Linked DNA regions of Homo sapiens. The protein of the gene in region 2 interacts with the protein of the main gene of each other region in a pairwise test. Each region holds a gene or a part of one and is shown on either strand. Other genes may lie near its edges. The genes, in order: CD86 and ECE2.

Region 1 (3,819 bases), about 62 Mb from region 2:
AAGAAGGCAGATGTGGGTGTCAAGGTCAGCACAGGCAGTGATGGGACAGGGTAGATGCAGACCACCTTTATTCCAGGAGGGAATCTTGCAGTTACAGCTTCTTAAAAGAGGAGTCAAATATAGACACATGCCCTCCTGGGTAAAGCCAGGACTTTAAAATGTCAGGCTCCTATTAGTGGCTACTGCTTAGTTTCAATCCTTTCCTCCACTGAACTTGTCCCTGAAGAATACTTGTGAACACACAAGCATTTCTGCCTCCAAGGCTTTCTTTGACATACCTCCTGCACTTACGTCAGATACAGCTGATCCACTGTGGTCCTCTCACCTGCTTAGCCCAGATACTGTCTCAAATTTTTTCAGCTACGGAAGTCACCACAGTTTTGGGAACCTGTCATCCAGAATGCCCTCCCCTCCTCACCACATTTATTAACCCCAATAATTTATTTTACATGTTACAAGGTACCCCTTCCTTTAGGAACCATTCCCTGACCCTCAGGGATCTTGCCTACCTCTGAATGCCCATAAATCTCATTACCAGTCACTTTTATTTTAAATTTAGTCAGATATTTCCATGGAATAAAATTTAGATTCCAATTCAACCTTTTAAAAATCCAGTTTTTCATGTGTGCACATTACAGGGTTCTGATTCTATTGGAAGGTCCTCAAGGGCAGAGGGGGTGTCATATCTTTTTGTTTTCACTCCTGTGACCAATAATGTCCCAAATGGTTCTATACTCACAATAAATATCATTTGTATGTCTGCATGTATGCATGGTGTGTGTGTGTGTGTGTGTGTGTGTGTGTGCAAGCGCATGTATGTGTTGTAATCAAAGAAAGAATTCTAGCCTGGAGGAATCCTGTATTTTTAAATCAAAACTTCAGAATCCTCCATCCAAAGGTAAACCAAGAGACTGAGTCAGTTTCAGGGCTAAAAGCATATTTCTTCAAGTGCAACATAGGCTCGTAGCCTCCTGGACCCTGCATCACTCAGGAGAAGCAGGAGACCTCCATCTGGGTCCTTCCTAACAGCGTCATAAAATGGCCCAGTTGGAGGTTTCCTAGCAAGTCGGGGACATTGGATGATCTGCCTTAAGCATTTGTGTATAATACCTGCTGAAAGAAATAGTCTTGGAAAACAGCTTTACCTATAGAGAAAGGTGAAGATAAAAGCCGCGTCTTGTCAGTTTCCAGAATACAGAAGATGGTCATATTGCTCGTAACATCAGGGAATGAAACAGACAAGCTGATGGAAACGTCGTACAGTTCTGTGACATTATCTTGAGATTTCTGCATAACACCATCATACTCGATAGTTGAATTCTTGGTTCTTAGCAAAACACTCATCTTCTTAGGTTCTGGGTAACCGTGTATAGATGAGCAGGTCAAATTTATGTACACATTTTCTGTTATATTAGAAATTGGTACTATTTCAGGTTGACTGAAGTTAGCTGAAAGCAGAAGAGAGATAAAAAAAAATCAATCTAAGTTTAGATGTATCTAGGAGGGAATAGCAAATAACTGGGTACTTGATCTGGGGCTCATTGGGGCACACCTGGGAGCCTCAGGGTGTCTAAAATGTGACCCTCAGCCCAAGGTGAGTGCCACATAATGACTTCATGTTTATTTTTCAACAATAGAGTTTGCAGCCATGCTTACTTCCTGCTTATCCAAATCAAAGGGGTGCTCTCTAAGTGACAGGAGGGCTGTAATTGAGTCACCAAAGATTTACAATGAAGCCACTGTTTCCAGGGAGTAGAGTCTTTGGAAGGAGAAGTGGTCTGACTCTAGGGCCCAGGTGTCCCATGGGGCACATTCCAGCTCCCCAGACTAAGAGAGCAGGAAGGAATTGAGCTGGAGTCTCACCAGGAACTGACAGAGTTCATGGTGCTGAGATGCCCTGCGTCATATCTTTCAGAAACCCAAGCAGGATTGTGGTAAGTGAGTGGGTGGATATTTTGGAATTCGAAATTCAGAACACTGATTTTTGGCATGAGCATCAAAGTGTCTTCATAACATACTCTAAGAAGAAGGCCAAATCCAGCTATTTTAGGGAAAAATACATGATCTTAATAAACACAGTGTTTCTCTTGCCTTTGCCATTCTCACTTTTCTGGCTGTTCAGGATCACTGGCATGGAGTCCCTAGACCTGTGTCATGTGCCTTCTGTCAGAAAAAATCCCTTGTTCTTTTATAGTTACTAGGTAGTTTGCAGGTTCTACAAACTAATTTATAATTTAGTGTATTCTTACTAAAAGGTCTGTCATTTGCATGTCATCTTTATAAGTTTTGCTATATCAGTGTACTATTTGAGCAGTCTTCTTGGAGTCTATGTGGCCTGTAGAAGGTGAATTGCCAGACCGTGTTTAGCTTCATTAACAAGATCTGTGAAATCACATGTTGCGTAAGTTAGAGTTTTTCTAATATACATTAAAACAAATACAACATGGCTTTTCAAAATGCTTATCTGTGTCCCACCTAAAACATTTCCAATGGTACCTGACCACATTTTGAAAACACGGATTTAGCACTTGGTTAACTATTCCTAAAGCCCTGCAGCCTAGTTTAAATCACACAGGGTTCAAAGGGAGCAGCTCTCCATTCTATTTTTACTTTTGCTTCTGTTTTACTCTATGGTTTTAGAATAGGTGTTGATCTGCCTTTTCAAGTTTCATCAAAAATTAACCTGGATCCAGTAATACCACACCTGGGTATTTCCTCTAGAGAACTGAGAACTTATGTTCACACAAAAACCTGTACATGAACGTTTACAGCAGCCTTATTCATAAGAGCCCCAAACCAGAAACAACCCAATGTCTTTTACTGAGTTGAATGGATAAACAATAAAATGCTACTCAGCAATAAAAAGGGACAAGCTCGATATGTGCAACAACTTGGGTGAATCTCGAAGGCGCGCTAAACGAAAGAAGCCAGGCTTAAAAGGTTACATACTGTGTGGCTTCACTTATGTGACACTGTCAAAAAGACAAAACTATAGGATGCCCAACAAGGGTTATGAGTGCAGACAGGGTATGACTCTATGAAGGGACAGCCTGAGGGAAATTTTTAGGGTGATAGAAATGCTCTATGTCCTGTGGCGGTTACCTAAATCTATACAAGATCTATACAATCAGTAGAACAGTATATCAAAACAAAAAAAAATAATTTTACTGTGTGATAGTTTTAAAAAAATCTGTAGTGGCATTTAGGCCTTCCAAGGTCTCGTGAAGCAGAGGAGCTGGTTTGTAAGTTTGTGGGTTATGTTTGTTGGGTTTTTTTCCCTTCTGTCTACCAGGCTCATGGTTGTGGCAGCAAACAACTCATAAGCAACCTAGAGGAGGCTGAAGGGAAAACCCAAATGTGTCAGCTGTCCGCTTTGCTAGGAGCTCCAGGCAAAGATTTAGTAGGTGAAAAATCTTGGACCCAAGGAAAAAATGAATGTAAGACATCTGAGGCCTTTATGGTTATATAAACTTTGTGATGGCCAAATTATCCATGGTTTTTACTATAGGTAATTAGCCATATTATCTTTGTTCAATTAGCTCTATTTTTTCCCCAAAGCAGATTTTTACTGATCCTTCAGAAGCAGACTATAAAAAGTACAAAAGACTTTCAGTTCCCTACTCCCAGACTCTACACTCCCTTCAAATGCACTTCCCAGAAGTGGCTGTCCTCTGCCTTCTCTCTATAGACCCCCCTTTTCCCCTGGGCCCCTCAAGTCCCCCTCCAGTGTTTTTCTAACTCATTTGCAGTCTCATCTGAGAAGGCTAAGAATCTGAACACACACCATTGACCACATACCAAGCACTGACAGTTCAGAAT
Region 2 (3,819 bases):
CACTCAGTGTGAGCAGTTATCACCACAAAATATAATGTATTTGTTTACATGTCCACTCCCCCCACTTAATGGGGCATCTTGAAACTAAATACTCACTTATTTATTATATCCTCTCCATCCTCCTCATCAAAGCCGAGTGCCTATACATACCATGTACTGTGCAGGTGCTTCACTTACATTAACTCAGCTAATACTCTTCCTGACAACCCTCCAAGTTATTCCTGCTTTACAGAGCAGGAAATGGAGAGTCAGAGAGGCTAGGTGATCTGCCCAAGGTCCTACAGGCTAGAAAATGAATGAGTTGGGATTGAAACGCAAGTCGGCTTGCTTCCAAATTCTGCGCTCCATACTATGCACCTGTGCACCATGAGGCACATGGTGCCTGTCACACTGAAGGTATGCAGCATCGGTTAGACTGGATCAGAACGTGGAGGCAAAATCAGAAAGCCCACCTTCTTAGTGCCATAGAGGGTCTCCAGCAGCTTCTCTTGTGCAGACTCAAAGCGTCGGTCCAGGCTTGAGGTTGTCTTTTGCACCAGGTTCCAGATCAGGTAATTGTTCAGGATGCTGACAACCAGACCAGAAAATAAGAAAAGGGCAGGTGGGATGCCCTTCACACCCCTCAAACCAGCCCCCAGGAACATGCAAGTTGCAGGAGTCCCGAGAGGCATATGTGGAAGCTGTCCCGGGGTTCCTCTTTGGTCCCGGGGCCACACACCTGCCTGTAGAGGTCAGGTTGGAGAGCAGTGGGGGGACAGAGATCACAGGGAGCACCCTGCAACCCTAGCGCAGAGGAAAAGCCCATAGACATTCTGATTCAATGTTTGGAAGGCCCATAGCATTACCAAATGTTGTTCTGTGTGGCTGGGCCTGTCCATTATGCCCAGCCTTGCTGGAGACCTCCACAGAACCCACCCTCACCCTGGGCTACCCCCACACCTTGGTTCCGTGCGGTTGATGAGCTCTGACACCTGCTGCAAATAATCCATCCCATACACCACCACAGGCTCAGAGTCACTCAACTCCAATGGTGACAGCAAGAAAGACAGGAACTCAAGCCAGTCCATGGAGGGCGCCAGAGCCTGAAAGAAAAAAATCTCAGGCCTTGCCTGCCCGACTCGCTTCCAGCAGAACCCTCCCCCACTGTATGCTGTAGCCTGGGAGCCCTTCCCATTGCCATAGCAACAACTACTGGCTTCATGGTGTATCCTTCCTGTAATATACCCTTTTCCAGGCCTGGACACCTCCAATCTGGGAGCCCAACCACTTATTATACAAGGATAACCACTACATGTGACATTCAGCTGGGGCCTAGATATTCAAATATTTTCCTAACAATTGATAAAATACCACTCCCAACACCCTGCACGTACTGGCTTCTCCTCCAGAACCACACTCCATCCCAACTTTTCCATAATCCAACATCTAAAGTGTTAATGGCCTGGCACAGTACGGGTCCCCCAGTGGAAACTTTCACTTCTATTTTTTTTTTTTTTTTTTTTGAGATGGAGTTTCGCTCTTGTCACCCAAGCTGGAGTGCAATGGCGCAATCTCAGCTCACTGCAACCTCCGCCTCCCAGGTTCAAGCGATTCTTCTACCTCAGCCTCCCGAGTAGCTGGGATTACAGGCATGTGCCACCACACCCGGCTAATTTTTTATTTTTAGTAGAGATGGGGTTTCACCATGTTGGCTAGGCTGGTCTTGAACTCCCAACCTCAGGCGATCCACCCGCCTCGGCCTCCCAAAGTGCTGGGATTACAGATGTCAGCCACCATGCCCAGCCTATTCTGATTGTTTTGTGGACATCTCATACAAACTGTTACACATTTTTAACACAATCCCTCCATGCATCCCCAGGCAAGAAAGGGACCAAAGGATGACCCAGTGAGAGGTGGCCTAAATGGACACCATTTTTTTCCCCAGGACAGCAGCAGTGCAGCTGGGGAGCACAGAAAAGCAAGGGAATGAGGAAAGGACTGGCTGCCTTGGGGAGATGGCATGGAGGGAAGCTGGGTGGTCCATGCCAAGGCTGGCCCCTCTCAGTTGTCTCCAGCCCCCTGCCTGCCCCACCTGCAGCTCCGAAATGCTCATCTTGTGGTAGATCTTCTCCTCGTCGCGCCGCTGGTCCTGGGGCACTGTGATGTTGGCCAGCTGTATCTCCAACTCCAGCACCTGCTGCATCTGCTCCCTCGTGGAGGTGGGCCGCCCACCCAGCAGCATCCCCAGTTCCTCCATGTAATCCAGATAGGCAGTGAGCACCTGTCAAGGCCCGGGTGATCCTCAGAGCCCAGCAACAAGTCCTGCCCAAGGCTGAGATCTGTTCTTACCACCACCTCTGCCCAATATCTCTTCTGCTTGATCCTTCTGGAAGCCTTTCTGGATGACCTGTTTCATTTCTGACACACTGCTTACCTCCATTGGCTAAGTATTGTTTACTTACTTCTTCTTCTTCTTTTTTTTTTTTTTTTTTTTTTTTTTTTTTGAGATGGAGTCTCACTCTGTTGCCCAGGCTGGAGTGCAGTGGCGCGATCTTGGCTCACTGCAACCTCCACCTCCTGGGTTCAAGTGATTCTCCTGCTGCAGCCTCCCAAGTAGCTGGGACTACAGGCGTGTGCCACCACGCCTGGCTAATTTTTTGTATTTTTAGTAGAGACGGGGTTTCACCATGTTAGCCAGGCTGGTCTCGAACTCCTGACCTCAGGTGATCTGCCCGCCTCGGCCTCTCAAAGTGCTGGGATTACAGGCATGAGCCACTGCACCCGGCCATGTTTACTTACTTCTGTACTTGTTTATCATCTATTTCTCCAAGGAGAAGGTGAGTTCCAGCAGAGCATTGTTCCAAGTTACAGCAGCTTACTCACTGCTGTCTCTAGGGACTAGAACACAGAGTAAGTGCTCTGCAAATGTCTGTCCAGCAGATGGGCCTACTTCCCATACTGCTTTGCCTTCTCATTTCCTAGATCCCTGCTAGTTGTCCCAGCCCATCAGTGACCATGTGCCTTCTCTGAACAGCTGACTGGACCTCACAGGGGATCGGGGCCATGGTGTCCTCAGGCCTCTATTACCTCCCATCCTGCCAGGCCTCAAGCTAGCTGCTTTCTCCACTACCCGCTGGTCTCCAAGGGAGAGAAAAGCATGGAGAAGAAATATTTAGTGACCACTTCTGCAGACATACATCAGACTCTCTATTAGAGGCTTTCCATACAGTGTATCTTTTCCTCCCCACACAGCAACTTCATGAAGTGAAGATGAGTCCCATTTCACACCCCAGGGCAGAAGCTTGGGAAGATGACACGGCTTGACTTCCATCACAAACTAGCAGATGGCAGAGTGAGAATGTGGCCCAGGCCTGATGACCCCAGGGCCATGGCGGCCCTGGCCCTGCTCGGGTCCAGTACAAACTCATGTGGCCTCACCCCTGCTGGCCCTGAGGCTCCATGAAAGCAGGGCTGGGTTTGCTTTGTTCACCACTGTAATTTCAGACCCAAGCGCAGCTGTCTGCCACAGAGTAGGTGCTCAATAAATATCTGTTGAATAACAGGGCGAAAACCTGCAAACAGACACTCAACACTGCTCTGTGCCAATTCCCTTAACCCTCCTCCCAGAAACCACTTCCCACTCAACCTGAAGGCCCACCTGGGCTCCACTAATCGCCAAAGGCCATCTCTTCTTCTACTTACCAAGAAGTTTTAGATCCCTTAATATTCATTCTGTGTATTTCAAATTCCTCCTGTCTCTCACCTCTCCTCTTACTTGCTGCTGGCATCAGAGGAAGAGGTTTGAGTACCAATCCCAGTCATCCCAGCTCCTGAGGGGGA

The links.
Region 1: the proteins of ECE2 (region 2) and CD86 interact in a two-hybrid assay, tested with the Homo sapiens proteins (one large-scale study listed by BioGRID).

The regions. Positions count from the first base shown.
Region 1 is NC_000003.12:122,103,827-122,107,645, reverse strand, and holds part of CD86 (T-lymphocyte activation antigen CD86 isoform 1 precursor), read right to left. Parts: coding exon 3,799-3,819; intron 1,449-3,798; coding exon 1,146-1,448; intron 1-1,145. UniProt on the Homo sapiens protein: Receptor involved in the costimulatory signal essential for T-lymphocyte proliferation and interleukin-2 production, by binding CD28 or CTLA-4.
Region 2 is NC_000003.12:184,282,226-184,286,044, reverse strand, and holds part of ECE2 (endothelin-converting enzyme 2), read right to left. Parts: intron 2,261-3,819; coding exon 2,072-2,260; intron 1,083-2,071; coding exon 940-1,082; intron 568-939; coding exon 453-567; intron 1-452. Other genes in the region: EEF1AKMT4-ECE2 readthrough transcript protein, read right to left, coding at 453-567, 940-1,082, 2,072-2,260. UniProt on the Homo sapiens protein: Converts big endothelin-1 to endothelin-1. Also involved in the processing of various neuroendocrine peptides, including neurotensin, angiotensin I, substance P, proenkephalin-derived peptides, and prodynorphin-derived peptides.